2 separate regions of the Homo sapiens genome follow, and region 2 is linked to region 1. Evidence: fine-mapped expression QTL. A gene starts in region 1. The other region holds a variant in brackets. All regions are shown on one strand. Distances are from middle to middle.

What was found.
Region 2: its variant is fine-mapped to the expression of ATOX1 in whole blood (INTERVAL, PIP above 0.99).

The regions. Positions count from the first base shown.
Region 1 is chr5:151,754,050-151,762,578 of GRCh38, reverse strand. It overlaps ATOX1 (antioxidant 1 copper chaperone), which reads left to right and starts at 3,948. Exons shown (of 4, transcript NM_004045.4): 1 at 3,948-4,033. The coding sequence starts at 4,028. ATOX1-AS1 (ATOX1 antisense RNA 1) reads right to left here. Exons shown (of 4, transcript XR_007059008.1): 2 at 8,457-8,529; 3 at 5,508-5,641; 4 at 4,219-4,290. RefSeq lists a silencer at 3,760-4,009 and an enhancer at 4,780-4,909.
Region 2 is chr5:151,903,454-151,911,453 of GRCh38, reverse strand. All of the region lies in intron 1 of GLRA1 (glycine receptor alpha 1), which reads left to right. Among named protein-coding and RNA genes, the nearest start is that of GLRA1, 17 kb to the left of the region's middle. RefSeq lists a silencer at 5,492-5,786. The variant C/T (reference allele first, on the strand shown) is at 3,431.

The sequences.
Region 1 (8,529 bases):
CGGGGTTCAAGCGATTCTCCTGCCTCAGCCTCCCAAGTAGCTGGGACTACAGGCACCCACCACAATGCCCAGCTAATTTTTGTACTTTTAGTAGAGACGGGGTTTCGCCATGTTGGCCAGGTTGGTCTTGAACTCCTGACCTCAAGTAATCTGCCTGCCTCTGCCTCCCAAAGTGCTGGGATTACAGGCGTGAGCCACTGCACCCGCCCATCACCCTTTTTAAAAACTTATTTAGGCCAGGTGCGGTGGTTCACGCCTGTAATCCCAGCACTTTGAGAGGCCGAGGCAGGAGGATTGCTTATGAGAGCAACCTGATCAACATGCCAAGACCCCATCTCTACAAAAACATACAAAAAAATAGCTGGGTGTGGGGACATGCACCTGTGGTCCCAGCTACTCAGGAGGCTGAGGTCAGGGGATCCCTTGAGCCCAGGAGGTCACAGCTGCAGTGTGCCATGTTCACGCTACTGCACTCCAGCCTAGGTGACACAGCAAGACCCTGTCTCAAAAAATAAAAATTAAAAACTATTTAGAATTTTTATTTTTAAAAATGCTTTTCCTAGTCTTGTAATAAGAAAGCAACTAATTTTACATGTCAGTCTAGAAATAAATAAATTTATTTATTTATTTTTATTTTGAGACAGGGTCTTGCTCTGTCACACAGGCTGGAGTGTGGTGGCACGATCACGGCTCAGTGCAGCCTTGACCTCCTGGGCTCAAGTGATCTTCCCACCTCCGCCTCCCAAGTAGCTGGGACTACAGGTGCACAACACCATGTCCAACTAATTTTTAAATTTTTTGTAGAGACAAAATCTCGCTATATTGCCAGGCTGGACTTGAAGCAATTCTCCTGCCTGGGACTCCTAAAGTGTTGGGATTACAAGCATGAGCCACCATGCCCTATTTTTAATTGTGGTAAAACATACAGAACATAAAATTCCTCTTTCTAACCATTTTTAAGTGTATAATTCAGTGGCATTAAATATATTCACAATGTTGTACAAGCATACTCAGAGTTCTTAACTGTTGTCAACTAATCAAAAAATATTTTGAATACTTTAGGGACTGAATAAAATGTGTCTGTAGACCCAGTTCTGCCAGCATGTGGCTCTGCAGGACACCATGCTCCCTCTCCCAAGCCTGCAGTCCACGCTCCCTCAGCTTCCACTTCATAGCCCTTCTCTTCTCATGCATGCCTTGGCTGCTCTGAGGGCCCTTTCAGCTCAGAATCTTTGGTCCCAGATAAAGGGTCCGTTGGTGGATAAAGCAGTGAGGCAAGTGGTGTATACCTGTGTTATGATACAAAAAACAGACACTTGGTTTCCTGCGGTGGGGATATCGGGGAGCAGGCAGCAGCTACAAAACCTTTCTTTGCAAAGAATTAAACTCCTCAGCATCTGTCAAAGAAAGGGTCATCCCAGGAGGCTGGGTCTAGAAGTAGATTACACCAGGAAGAACCCACCATCTATACATGCCTACAGTGTGCACATTCCTATCCTTGCAACAACACTTTCAGCCAGAAAGCAGGGATTCTATATGCCCATTTCCCAGGCTCACTGGCTTAGTGATGGCTCATTGCCTGTAATCCCAGCACTTTGGGAGGCCAAAGTGGGCAGATCACGAGGTCAGGAATTCGAGACCAGCCTGGCCAACATGGTGAAACTCTGTCTCTACTAAAAATACTAAAAATACAAAAATTAGCCGGGCATGGTGGTGGGCGCCTATAATCCCAGCTACTTGGGAGGCTGAGGCAGGAGAGTTGCTTGAACCCAGGAGGCGGACGTTGCAGTGAGCCAAGATCACGTCACTGCACTCCAGCCTGGGCGACAGAGCAAGACTCCATCTCGGGGAAAAAAAAAAAAAAAGCTAAGAAAGAAAAGGGTTGATATGTACTATTAAGGAATAATCTTTTTTTTTTTTTTTTTTTAAATACAGGGTCATATTCTGTCACCCAGGCTGGAGTGCAGTGGTGTACTTATGGCTCAATGCAGCCTTGACCTCCTGAGCTCAAGTGATGCTCCCACCTCAGTCTCCTGAGTAGCTGGGACCACAGGCATATGCCACCACACCCGGCTAATTTTTGTATTTTTTGTAGAGCCAGGGTTTCACCATGTTTCTTAGTCTGGTCTCAAACTCCTGGGCTCAAGTGATCCTCCCACTTAGGCCTCTCAAAGCAATGCGATTACAGGTATGAGCCACTGCATCTGGCCCAGGAATAATCTCTAAGATATTTTATAAAGTGAGAAAAGCAGGATGCAAAACTGTGTATACTATGCCTTTTGTTTAAGAAGGAGAGGTCAGGGTAGGAGGAAGACCTACTTTTCACTGTACGCTACTTTGTGTTATTTGAAAATTAAACAGTAGGTACATTGGGATTCCACCTGCAAATCCTACACTTATCCAAGATAACTTCTAGTAACATTGGCTGTGGTTCATTTCATGCTTATTTTAATGTAAATACACGGAATGTATGTATATATTTATGCAGGAACTACAGTCTGGCATATTTTCTTCTCCTCTTTAATAGGTCTTTATTTGTGATCTTTAACAGATCTTTATAAAGCTGTCTTCTCTTTAAATTGCTGTCTCTAGGCTTAGCCATCCCCCCAACCCATACCCCTAATTCTCTAAAACATGCCGTGGGTGGTTCGCCCTGTGTACTGTTGCTTTGGGAAGGATTTCCTTCCCTCATGTCCACTCTCCGCCTTCCCTCATGGCAATCTAGCTATCCCTAGCCCCAGGGCACAGTTGTACCCAGGACTACCAAGATGCTAAGCCTTGCCCGTACAGGACCTAATGTGCCAGTACCCTCTTTCCCTCTCCTCCTCGCCCCCTTCCCTTCCATCTTTAGGGAATTCCTGGCAGGTTGGGTAGGGGATGAATGGTTAAGGGGTATTTTGTGAGCAGCGGAAGACCCAGTGCCAGGGAGGCCAACAGAGGGCCTAGCAATTAGAGAATACTTATATATATTTTTGGTGCCTACCATGTGCCAAGCAATGTATTAAGAAGTTTGCACACATTACATGTATTCCAACAATACTGCAAAGTAGGTTTCTTGGAGGGAACCATGTGTCGTTGTTTGCCTGAAACAGTCATGGTGTTTGCCTGTTGTCCTGGCAAAATTATTAATAGCATCTCCTTTCTCTAGCAAAAGGTTCAGATAAAAAATTGTATAGTGACCTTAACTGTCCCCATCTTATACGTGAGGATATTGAGGCTTAGAGAGGTAAGTTCATCTGCCCAGGGTCACATGGCTAATAAATGATAGGGCTGAGATTAAAACTCTAGTCAGTATGGCTCTGCTAGGGACTGAACTCTGACATGGACATGAATTGTGTCCCCGCAAATTCCTATGTTGATACCCTAACCCCCAATGCGACTGTATTTAGAGACAAAGCCTGTAACAGGGCGATAAAGGCTAACCGAGGTCCAGATTATTGCCTTCTCCCCAGGCCGCCTCTCTTCCACAACCGCCCCCACCCCACTGCAGTCAGGGCCCTTCCTCCTCTGTCACAACAGCTCTGCTAACCCTGCACTATCACTGCCTGCGTCCTTCGCAGCCTCCTGCTGCTGCTCTTCCACCGCTGCGTCCTCGTTGGCTGGCGCTTAATAAAAATTGACTCGGTGAATAAATGAGTGAAACTGTCCTTTTAGGGATGGATGGATGATGTCCTGTTCAAGGCGGTGCCCTTCTCTGGCATTCCCTAACACAAGCTTGACCCGAAGTAGGCGTTCTGAAAAAGGCCGACAGTCGATGGAGGCCAACGCAGCGCCCCTCTCACCTCCTCTCTCCGTCCAGGCCGGGTGACCACGGGCCCGGCCCGCAGAAAGGAGGCGGCGCGGCCGGCAGGGATCAGGACTGGAGGGGGCGGAGCCTCCCTCGCGGCCGGGCCCGGAGTGGGAGGGGCCTCCGGGACCAGGCCTCTAGTGCGCACTCTCGGAAGCGCAGCCGAACCCGCCCTCCGAATCCAGAGAGGCGCTGCTGACACCGCCGCCACACCGCCGCCACACCGCCGCTGCCTCAGTCATGCCGGTGAGTGGTTGCGCCGTCCCCGCCACGCAGACTTGCAGTCCCGGGTTGCTTCTCGGCTGCACAGCCGCTTGACCGGATGCTGATCTTGAAGGGCTCAGGCGGCGGCCGGAGCCGCTGTTGTCCCCTAGCTTACCCCACCCAGCCCCCAGCTTTTGCGACCCTTCAGAAAATGGGATCCGAAGGGAGTTTAATCTGGGAGCCAGGCTTCAAAACGTCGGAGCTGGAAGGCCTCCAGGGGCGACAAGCCCACACCTTCCCTGCGTACACAGAGAAACAGAACCAGAGAGGGGGCAGGGGATGGGGGAGTTGGTGGCCAGCGGGAACTGAGACGCCTAGTCCCTGAGCCTTCCTCCTGGCTGCCCTGCCCGCGGAGCTGGCCTGAAGGAGGGCGGTGGGGAGGCTCTGGACAAGGGAGTGGACCCGGTTATTTCCTCACGGACCGGGCAGGTTTTCAGAGGTTCATGCTTTTCTTAATTTCCCTGCCCACTCTGGCCTACTTTTCAGATCAACTCTGGGCGACACTGAATGGAGACACTTTCTCAGCCTGAACCCATGAGCCCCAGAGAGGTTCAGGAACCCCCCCGCACAGTCACCAGTTGCTCAGTGGCTGTGTCTGGGAAGTCAGTCTTAGCCTGCCTTTGCAGATCACTCAGTCTTATCACATATATTGTTGCTCGTGGCCTCGTTTTTTATATAAAGAATTGAGGCCTTTGGCAGATAAAAATATAAAAAGCCCAGTAACTTATTCCAGGTCGTGTTGAAGTTGGCAGAGCCAGGATTCAGCTCCTTATCCTTAGGCTCCCCATCTCTCCAGGCCTGACCACATGGGAGGTGCCAGGCAAAAGCAGTCACACCGGCTTGGGAAGATGCTCTGATCTCAGTTGCATCTTGGTTAGGGTCATGTGGTGTTTAGCATTTTCTTCAGGGTGCCTAATTCATGGCTCTGGGCCAGGTGGATACCCAGAGGTATCCCACAGTTGCCATGTGTCTTTGCATCCTGTCTTTAGGGAGCTGGCAGGTGAGCCTGAGGCCTCCTGGGCAGAGCCACTGACATCTCAGGTGTCATTTCCTGTGGGTCTTGCCAGGTGCCTTGAGACAAATCCTCCAACAACAAAGTATGGATAAGGAATCTGATAGAATCAGCCCTACCAGTTGGGCAAGTCAGCCTGTGGCAATGGTAGAAGACAGTATTAATTGCCCTGGGGCTTGGGGAGTGAAGGCCACCAGGATTTTTTGTGGGGGGTGGCAATGAGGAAAAGGCTAGCTTGATCATCACTGTATTCTGTATCTTCTGGGGATTTTGACAAAAAACCCTCTGGAGCAGATGATGGGAATGAGGAGGGCACTTGGCACCATGTACCACAAGATAACAGCTGAAGGAAAGAGGGTGTTAGTCAAGGGATTTCCTCAAAACTGGAAAGGGAAGAAAAAAATATATCTATATACACATACTGGAAGGGGAAGAGTGTGTTACCTGAGAGTTTTCTCAGACAAATGCCCGAGAGCACAGGGTTTGGAATCCCAGAAACCTCTGAAAATCTGTGCCCCAGCTTGCCAACTGGGTGACCTCAGGCAAGTTGCTTTATCTCACTGCCTTGATTTCCTCATCTGTAAGATAGGGACAAAAACTTTGACCTCACAGGACTGTTGTTAGTATTAACTGGAAAAATGCCAGTAAAATATGTCACACAGCCACTGATATATCTAGTCCCCAAGAAATGGTAGCTCCTGTGTAGACGTAGGACAGGTGGGCTAGAGCTATAGGCAGGTGAGGCCGGGCATGGTGGCTCACGCCTGTAATCCCAGCACTTTGGGAGGCCCAGGCGGGCAGATCACTTTAATGCAGGAGCTTGAGACCAACTTTGGCAACATGATGAAACCCTGGCTCTACAAAAAATACAAAAAATTAGCCAGACGTGGTGGCCCGTGCCTATAGTCCCAGCTACTTGGGAGGCTGAAGTGGGAGGATTGCTGGAGCCTGGGAGGTTGAGGCTGCAGTGAGCCGTGATCGTGCCACTGCATTCCAGCTTGGGTGACAGAGTGAAAGTGAAACCCTGTCTCAAAAGAAAAAAAAAAAAGGAAGGAAGGAGAGAGAAAGAAAAGAAAGAAAGAAAGAAGAGAAGAGAAGAGAAAACTATAGGCAGGCAGCTTTCAATCCCATTTTAACAAGATCTCAGTGGTTAAGCATTGAGGTTTTAGAGGCTGACTATGTTCAATTCAGGCCCTACTCAGCCGAATCACCGTGAGTGTGTGAACTAACCCCTAAATCTCAGTTTCCTCATCTGTCAAGAAGGGATAATAATAGGCCAGGTGCGGCGGGTAATGCCTGTAATCCCAGCACTTTGGGAGGCTAAGGCAGGCAGATCACAAAGTCAGGACTTTGAGACCAGCCTGGCCAACATGGTGAAACCCCGTCTCTACTAAATATACAAAAAAATTAGCCGGGCATGGTGGCGGACGCCTGTAGTCCCAGCTACTCGGGAGTCTGAGGCAGGAGAATCGCTTGAACCCAGGAGGCGGAGGTTGCAGTGAGCTGAGATCGTGCCACTGCACTGCAGCCTGGGTGACACTGTGAGACTCAGTCTCAAAAAAAAAAAAAAAAAAAAAGAATCATCCCACTTACTGACTTTAAAAACCTACTTTAAACCTACTGGCTTTTAAAATCTACCCATTTTATAAGTCTTTATAAAAGACCCCAGAGGCCATGAGGAACCAGAACTACCCAGTTATGCATCTGGTGGTAGAGCCAATCTTGAGATTCTCCTATAAAGAAGTGATTACTCTGTCCATGAAATAGATTTTCCATCACCCTCAAATTTATTTTTGCCCCTCAGAGGTGGAGGAGGAGAGCACTGAACTGTAATGTTTATACCCAGAAGCTGGTTTCTGGCTTCTGACCTTTATACTGTGGGGGATGGGACCTACTCCCTGTAGTCAGCGACAGAAAGTTTCAGGTATCTGTTGACTTTAGGTCCTTGGGCAGCAAAAAACTGTGCTCCCTAAAAATGTGTTTCTAGTTTCAGAGCTTCTGCTGAGAGTCAGGGTTATGAGGGCTGGCGGTGTACTTTGCTTTTCCAGAACCAGCAAGATTTCCCTGGAGCGAAGAAAGCCTAGGTTCATATTCCATACTCAGTAGTTATTTGCCACATGACTGCAAGCTACCTAGTGAACTCTTGGGAACTTCACTTTCCTCCTGAGTGAAATAAGATAAATAGCTCTCTTTCCAGGCTCAGTGAGGACTAACTTAGATACTGTACAAAGATAATTTGACATGTAATAGACAATCAGTAGATTTAGCTCTTATGTTGATCTTGCAAACCCTTCAAAGCTTTGGCTCAGTATATAAGTACAAACCATAGATGAATTGATTTTCTGCTGGTTATCCTAGAGCAAGACTCAGCAAACTTTTTTTTTTACACGGCACCGATAGTAAACATTTTAGTCTTCACAAACCATAGGGTCTCTGGTACAACTACTCAACTCTGCCATTCTAGTGCAAAAGTAAACAAATGAGTTTGGCTGTAGTTTTTTGTTTTTGTGTTTCTTTTTTTTTTTTTTTTTTTTTGGACGGTGTCTCGCTCTCTTGCCAGGCTGGAGTGCAATGGCATGGTCTTGGCTCACTGCAACCTCCGCCTCCTGGGTCAAGCGATTCTCCTGCCTCAGCCTCTTGAGTAGCTGGGACTACAGGCGCATGCCACCACTACCAGCTAATTTTTGTATTTTTAGTAGAGATGGGGTTTCACCATGTTGGCCAGAATGGTCTCGATCTCTTGACCTCGTGATCCTCCCGCCTCAGCCTCCCAAAAATGCTGGGATTACAGGCATGAGCCACCACACCTGGCCCGATTTGGGCTATGTTTTAACAAAACTCTTTGTAAAACAGGTAGTTTGTAGTGTGCCAATCCATGTTCCAGAGCATCATCATTTTTTTTTCCAAAACAATTTTTTTCTTTTAAATTAAATGGAGCCATGATCTCACTGTATTGCCCAGGCTAGTCTCAAACTCCTGGGTTTAAGTGATTTTCCTGCCTCAGCCTCCTAAGTAGCTGGGATTACAGGCACCTGCCACCATGCCTGGCTAATTTTTTTTCTATTTTTAGTAGAGAAACAGGTTTTGCCATGTTGGCCAGACTGGTCTCAAACTTGTGACCTCAGGTGATCTACCTGCCTCAGCCTCCCAAAGTGTTGAGATTATAGGCATGAGCCACATTGCCCAGCCTAAAAAAACTTTTTAATAGAGGAGAGCATCATCTCAGACTGTAATGTGGGGAGGAATGACTTGGGTGTCTTGTTAAAATGAGGATTCTGATTCCGGACTTCTGGGAAGGGACCTGAGATTCTGCATTTCTGACAGGCTCTCAGGTGATGCTCATATTGTTGGGCTGAGGACCACATTTTAAAGACAAGATTTTGTAATACTTACTACAAATCCTTCTTTCCAGAATCTGTTATTGTTGCTGTCTGTGAATAGTCAGGAAACAAGATGAAAAAATCAG
Region 2 (8,000 bases), 150 kb before region 1:
CAGATTATCATAAGTATTAAAAGGGAGAGGGCATATAGTTGGCATTGCATATGGCAAGCAACAAGTGTAAAAAGCAGGAAAACCACTATTACTATAATTAAAGTAGGATAGGTGCAAAGTGTTGTGGGAGCATACAAAAGAGCCTGATTAACTCTGTCTGGAGGTGGGAGATGGTATAAATTGAAGACATTTCACATGACTCAGGATAATTAAACTGGGCCATAAAGAATGACTAATTTACCAGGTAGGCAAAGAGTATCAGGAGAGTGAGGCAAACAAAGGAAAAAGGCTTGCAGAACAGTCAAGCTGAATGATGTTGAGCTCAAGGCCACTGGGTAGGCCAGGCATCCACCCTGTTATGTTGGCTCAGCCCAGTCCTGCTCTGCCCTATTCTCTCCCAATGGGCTTTCTATCAATTAGAAGCCTGGCTGAGAGAGAATAATTTGTTCATTATCCAAAAAATATTTATTAATTCCTACGATAACCAGGAGTTGTTCTAAGTTCTGGGGATAGATACATTGAGGAACAGAGTCATGGTCCCTGCTCTAACACACCTTAACTTCTAGTGGGGGGTACAAACAACTAAACAAATAGAGAAACTATAGAATTGCAGGACCTAGTAAGTGCTATAAACCCAATAAAGCAAGAGAGGGTAACACATAACAGTCTACTATCAACTCCACCCTCAAGGTGCCTACACTTTCATACATCTCCATTATCTCCCTTAAGCCTTATATTATAGGAGATGGGCAGGTTGGAGAGGACTGTTTCTTGTTATAGTTGAGGAAACTGAAACCCTGAGGGGAAAAATGATTCATCCAAAGTCACACAGCCAGTTAGTATCATGGGCAGGCAACCTCATTCCATGCAGAAAAGTCAAAAATGGCCAGGATGAATGATTACGAGGAGTGGAGAGAGAAGGGAAGGCAAATAGCAAAACAGTCTGTACAGTAGGATCCCATTTTTATTTTTTTATATGTATTAATGTTCTCTTATGGGGAAAAATTCTACAAAAATGGACTGAAAACTGTTTATAGTTGTTATTGTCTCTTGAGAATGAGACCATGGGGAACTTTTATTTCCTGCATTAAATATTCCTGTAATACTTGAATGTTTTACAACAATATATATTACTTTTGAAAAGCTGGAAAATATATTTTTTAATAAAAGAGGATGCCAGAGAGTATGGGCATTCAACCAAACTTAGAGCCCACCTTAATAAAAGGCAACCTGTACCAGGTAGGAAAGAAAGACATTTGGAGTCACCCAAACCAGTGCCGTCTTGATTGTTTTCTCTAAGTAAAAATCAGCCTAGAAGCTGAAACTATTTCGTGTATTTAGGAGAATTTTCTGAACAAATGGAAGTTGCTTTTCCCACAGAAGTCATTGTGCTGGAAGCAAAATGTCACTGGAAAATGGAAGGCTAGAGTTATATTATAAAATTGGGTGCTCAGAACAACGTGATGGATGGTACATACTCTCATCAGGGTGACTGGAGCCCTACCCAATTCACTGTGCAATTTCATAAAATACTCCTACTCATGACAAAAAAAAAAAGTTAGAGATGGAAAGAATTACATGTCCCAGTTGTTTCAGTTCCCAGGGAGGAACTGTGGCCAGAGGGAAAGGGACTTGTCCAAAGTCAACAGTAAATTAATGTCCAGCCCAGACAAGAACTGAGAATTCCAAGTCTCTTATTACCATGACAACTTTCCCTAAAATCAAATCAGAGTTACACCAATAGTCTACAAGATACACTATAATGGTACAGGATAATTTTCTCTTATTTTATTTTACTAGGGACCAGAACTTACCAATTCCATTATGATACTGATAACATTTAAGACTAAAAATCAAATTAAAAATAAATTAAATAACAGTACATAAATTGGGCAAAACTTATTATATGACATGCAAGTGATTTTGGTTTGGAGAATACAGCACTCTGTCATCACATCTTAAACACTACCTGGGAGAAAATGGAAAGTATCAGAAGGACTTCTTAAACTGTGTCAGTTCTGAGCAAGGCCTAACTTTACTCTTAACTTCCAAACAGCTTCTTCTCAGGGTAAGTCATGACCATGGGCTGCAATTTGAATTCAAATGGTTGGAGAAAAGATGGTGCCTTTGGGTAAAAAGTGCACACATTCAGGAAGCAGAGCACAGCTGAGATCAGGTCACCCTTTGTGTAATTTGCTGAGTCTCTATTTGAGCTATATTCATAGTTTTCTTTTCTCTCCTTATGTTAGAATGACATCTGTGACTCTCGACCCTTCTCCTTATGGACAGAAATCCCTCTAAATAATATTTATAATTAATAATACCAGCGAATATGAATAACATATATTTAGAACCTACTATATGCCAGAAACTTTTCAAAAAACTTGATATGTATTAACTATTTCATCTTTATAGCTACCCTGTGAGGAAAATACTATGATCATCTCCAGTTTGTAAATGAAGGGACTAAGGCAGTGATCTTACCAACCTAGGACCCCTTTAGGGCACCTTGGCAATTCAAGTTCAAAGTCTTCATATGGAGAAAGACAGTGGACAAACCCCTCCAAAGACATGGCGGGGTAGGATGGAGAAAGTAGATAGAGACTCTGAGGAGGAAAATTGAGGGGCTCACCCCAAATCACAGCCACAATGGGAAGAACTTGACAACACACTTCCCTTTCAGTTCTTCTACCCAAAATCCTGATTTTGTTTTCATTTAACATTATGGGATTAAGAAGCAACAAACGAGAAGAAAGAGTATTGAGCAAGAAATAAAATGAACAATTTAAAAAAAAAACAAGAAAGGGGAGAGAAATGTGGAGATAAGCAGAGTAATAAAGAGGGAAGAGCACTCAACTCAGGTCTACTCTGGGTTCCACCAAGGACTCATTCTGTGAGTCTCTTTCTGTCTTGGAAATGCATTCTTCTCATCTGTAAAATGAATGAGTACACTGTACTAGAGGACTTCTAAGACCTCCCTCAACTTCATCATCCTAGGATTCAGAAACAAATGAAGGAAAAGGAATAAGGTAGAGAAACCAGAAGGGAAAAAGAATGTAGGAGGGAAGAAGCAAAGGTTAAGGAGGAATGATGACAGGAGGAAGAAACAAGAGGATAGAGAAAGGAAGATATTTTCCAAAGCAGTTGGAATCTGCTTATCTTGTTGAAAGAAAAGGAAGGATCCTCACATCAAGAATTCCAACAATAAAAGCTTTCTCTTCATGCAACTAACTCCATGTTTCCTGCTGGTGGGACCCATGGCTGATGTTGGTAGGAGCCTAGACTGATGTCTACAGAACAGGGGCCTGAATGGATACCTGGGAGGAGACAGGATGCTGCCTTGTTCTCAAAGCCCAGGAAGGAAGGCTGCTGAGAGAGCCCTCAGAAGGGCGGCCCTTCCTCCTCTTCCTCACCTCTTCCTCCTTTTCCT[C/T]ATCCACATCTTCCTCCTCCAGGCCAGATTATGGACAACAATTATTAGCATATTCCCAGGCTATGGGGAAAGTCCTGGGGAAATGACTAGAGAATGTGCCCAAGGGAGCCACAACTGCAACATTACAGCATTGTGCCTGCTAGAAAGAATCCTGGGCATCATCAAAAGGAGAAAATCCCAGGCAAGAAAGAGACCTTCCAAGGTCATCTTCTCCATCTCTTGCCTCTGAGCATCCCTTCCCTAATTGCCCAGGGGCTGCAATCCAAACCAAAAGATTTAGCACAGAATAATACTCAGTCCTATCAGCTAATCTTTTCACAACTGTCTGGGCCATCCCAGGCCTTGAGACTTTTGTAGACAAAGACAGTGCCTCCGATTGATTGAACTCTAATGCATATGGCACAGTGCTGGGCATATAGTGGGCTCCTCAAACCCATCTGATATTTGATCCATAGGGTGACATGATTTATTAGCTGTGTGGTTCTAATCTTTCTCCCAATAATGTCTATTCTATTGCTTAACATTTCAGTTTGAATATTCTTCCTTTTGTTTATTCCACTGCCCCTGTTTTAAAGTCCAACCTGTCATTTGCCTAAGGGGACAGAAATTAGCATGTACCTGCCACTGCAGAAGTGAAGTAAAATACTCACCTAGGAGGTGACCTCTCCAAGTCTAAAATTTTTCCCAGTGAAGAAGTGAGTAGACAGTGTCGCCAAATAAATGAGAGCCACAGATACAAATAGAAAGATTATAGATAATTTTTCGCTTAATATATAAAGAGCAACTTCTGTATACCAGCTTCTTGGCTAAACAATTTATCTGTATTTTTTTTTGTAAGTCTTCTAAAATTAGGCCATATTCTTAGTTTATAGATGAAGAAACAGGCTCAGAGAAGTTAAGCAACTTTCCAGAACACCCAAGTAAGTAATAAAGTCACAGTTCCAGCCCACTCCTCAGCTGTCATCCTTACAGCATGCTACTGAGCAGAGAAGTTCAGCCTCTCCTTGAATACTTCCAGTGACAAGAAACTCATCATCTACTCAGGCAGCTTCTTCCATTGTTGGATGGCTCTAATGGTCTAAATATTCTTTCCTCACATGTATCAGGCAGCCATCTTGCTCTTTAAAAGTCCGACAGGTCTTCCCTAGTCACTTGGAACAAGTCAGTGGGCTGTAGAAGGTACTCAAACTATAAAATTAGAAAGACCTGGCTCCATTCCTACCATTCCACCTATTAACCACGTTAACTCTCAACCAAGTCACTTCTGCCTCTGTGCCTGTTACTTCATCTGTACAATAGATACACAAATACATACCTCATGTAGTGTTTTGGAGAAGAAAAAATAAATAATATTTGCAAAGCTCGATGTCTGGAAAATAAAAATACTCAAAAAAATTATTTTATTAAGTTGGGTCCCTCTTCCCCCAACAGCCCAATGGACCGATCCCTTCTGCCTAAGACTTCTCTGAGCCAAACACCCACAGAGTCTTTAATTATTCCTTACAGGTCAATTTCAAGTTTGTTTACCAGCCCAATTGTTCCCTTTTGGACCTGCTCCAGCCTGTTAATGTCCCTCTTAAAATGCAGGACCTACAACTAAATATAATAAATTAGCCAAGATGTGAAGTACAGCCCACATCCGGTATTTCCTGCATTCCTGACTCTTTCAGTCTTCGGATTTTTCTAAGTTCTTAAGAATTATTAGGTTAAACTTAGGCTGGCATAAGATTTTAGTGCAGATTATTTGAACCTTATTTTTATTTGTAATAATTGCTAACATACTCAGTAGTTTCTCTGTGCCTGGCACTGCAGTTCTCACTTGATATGTATTTTCTTACTTAGCCAAACAATTATAGAAAGTATCCCTATTATTACCCTTATTTTACTGATAAGGAAACAAATTGAAAGTGTTAAGTGACTTGCCTAAGATCACACAGCTAATAAATCAGAACCCGCTAATAAACGGCAGAATCAGATTTGAGTCCACCATGTTATCCCACCCCCCATTTCGAGCATTTAGGGAATGCTTGCAAAATGTAAGTACTTTCAGGGATTTAAAAAAATGAATATGACACAGGCAGAAGACATATGCAGGGCAATTTAACAGAAAAGGAAATGCAAAGCACGAAGCAATGTTGGGCTTCTGAACAATCTGTCACTAAGAGCTCGCTTTCTCCCCTCCAGCACGTTCCAATGTCTACAATTTCATGGGCAATGTGAGTCAGTGGAGGAAAAGGGAAAAGGTGGAAGCAGTCACCTCTCTCCTTTTCAACTTTTACTTACTCACCGTTGACTTCAGCCCTTGCCCCTAGCACACTGCCTTATGAAGAATTAATTTTCAATGACAGCCAAGTTGCTGGTCCTGGGGGGTTGGAAGGGGCTCCTTTACTCTGCTATGGCCTTTCTGCCTCAGAAATATTTCTAGCTTTGACTCAGCAATTTTGCTTCTAGGACATGAACAGAGGTTTGTGACCAAGGGGGTTTTTCCAGCATAATTTATAATAGCTAAAAATTGAAAATAATATAAATGCCTATCAATTGTGGGAGAGCAAAATAAATACTAATTTTAAATGACTGCATATGCCAGCCACACACTGGCATATGCAGTCATTTAAAATTGTGTTTCTAAAGATTTAATAGCAATAGAAAATGCTCATTTAGAATCTTCAGTCAAAAATAAAGAGGAAACAACACTCATTATGATCTGTAGAGGAAAAAAACCTGGAAGAAATTTAGCAATATGTTAACAGTAGATATCTAGATAATGGGTTTTCTAGGTGGGTTTTCATTTTTTTCCTTGAACCTCATTGTATTTTCCCAATGTGCATTTTTTGCTTTAATCATCAGAGGAAAATGTTATTTTTTTAAGAGTTGAAAGAATCTGGTCTGAGGGCAACCAGCCAGCTTGTGAAAAAATAGTTTTTGCCACTGGACAGTTTCCATATGTGCAGCAGCAATTACTGCTCTGTTACCATCAGATCATCTTAATCCTATTGACTGAAATGCCAAAGTAATACTATTAATTTACTACATAACAGATAAATTACTAAGAGCATAGTAGAACTACCTGAGATTGCTGTGGTACTCTTCTAGGGTCAGAGTGGGTGGCCCTTCTAGATTCCAATATAAAGCACAAAAAGCTTCTGGAAGTTCATATATTCATCCCCCATCACAAAGCCTAGATCTGCCAACTCTCTTTGAATCAATAAAAATTGTATTGAACATTTACACTGTGCCACACACCAAAGTGAGCACTGTAAAAGAATGCTTATTCCTTACAACAAGCTTACGACCAACAACTACTATCACCCTCATTTTACAGATGCAGAAACAAAGATTTAGACAGAATAAGTAACTTGTCCAAGGCTGCACAGCTAGCAAAAGCCAGAGCCTGATTTGAGGCCAGAGTCCATGTGCTTAGCCCTGGAGCATGCCCTTTTTCAGCCAAAAAACAAGTTCTTATGCTTTCTTCCACATTATTTTAAATAGTAATTTAAAAGTTAGAGCAGGAGCTATCTACACGCTATGGATGAGGAAGCTGGTGGTTACGTGTAGTAAAGGACTTGCCCAAGATCATACAAGGAAGAATTGCAACAGATAGAAATCAAACCCAGAATCTCTGACTCCACATCCACAGCTTGTCGCATTTCCAAGGTTGCTTCTCTTTGCCTCTGAGACACGCAACAAGCAGCAGAAAGCAGTGGGACTCAGGATCCCGTTTGGTCCCCCTGTGTGTTAGAAAGGGGTGACCTGCTGGAGGATCTTGAAGGTACAGGGTAAAAAGGACAGAAATCCCAAGAAGAGAAGAAAACCTCAGCAACGACCCTAGAGCTCCTTTATCCTGAAAGGGTAAAGGGGCATTGGCCACAGAGCCTTGTTGTTTCTTCATCATCCATCACTCTTCCTTCCATCTCGTTAAGTCCCACAAGGTGTCAATGATACTTTTCCTGAATTCTCCTAAGTAAATATTCCTTCTAGAAGCTTATACTAAACCACAGAAGAGTAGAAACTTAAAACCATGCATATTTGAATTGAGTGAGCTGTTTTAGCAGATTTGAACAGCTGCTCCAAAACTTGCGCCAAAATTTCACCTCGATTAGATTTATGTATCAGCTCTGCCACTAAGTCACCTTGATTAAGTCAGTCAATCTCCCCAAGTCTCAGTTTTCTCATCTGAAAAATAGAAAAGAAAATGCTTGATGTTTCATAAAGTTGTTGGGAAGATTAGAAAGCCTGTATGGAACAGTTCTTAACTGTGGATGGCACCTAGAAAGCATTTGGTCATTGGTAGTAGCCTTTGCTATTCTCAGTTAATCTCTGAGTCAGTTTTCTTATCTATAAAATGGAGATGATAGTCTTGCAGGGGTATAATATACATTTATTAATTTATAGCAGGTGATCAATGAATGTCTTTTTTAATGCACAGGATGACTAGGTCTCGTAATTCTACGACTCTACTACTCACTTCTTGCCCAAGACTTTGGAACCTGCTGAGTGAAACAAAGAAGTTCCACCCCACTGAGCATAGCTGCAGCTCTGACTCTGTCTTAGAGGATTCAAGGGAATCAAC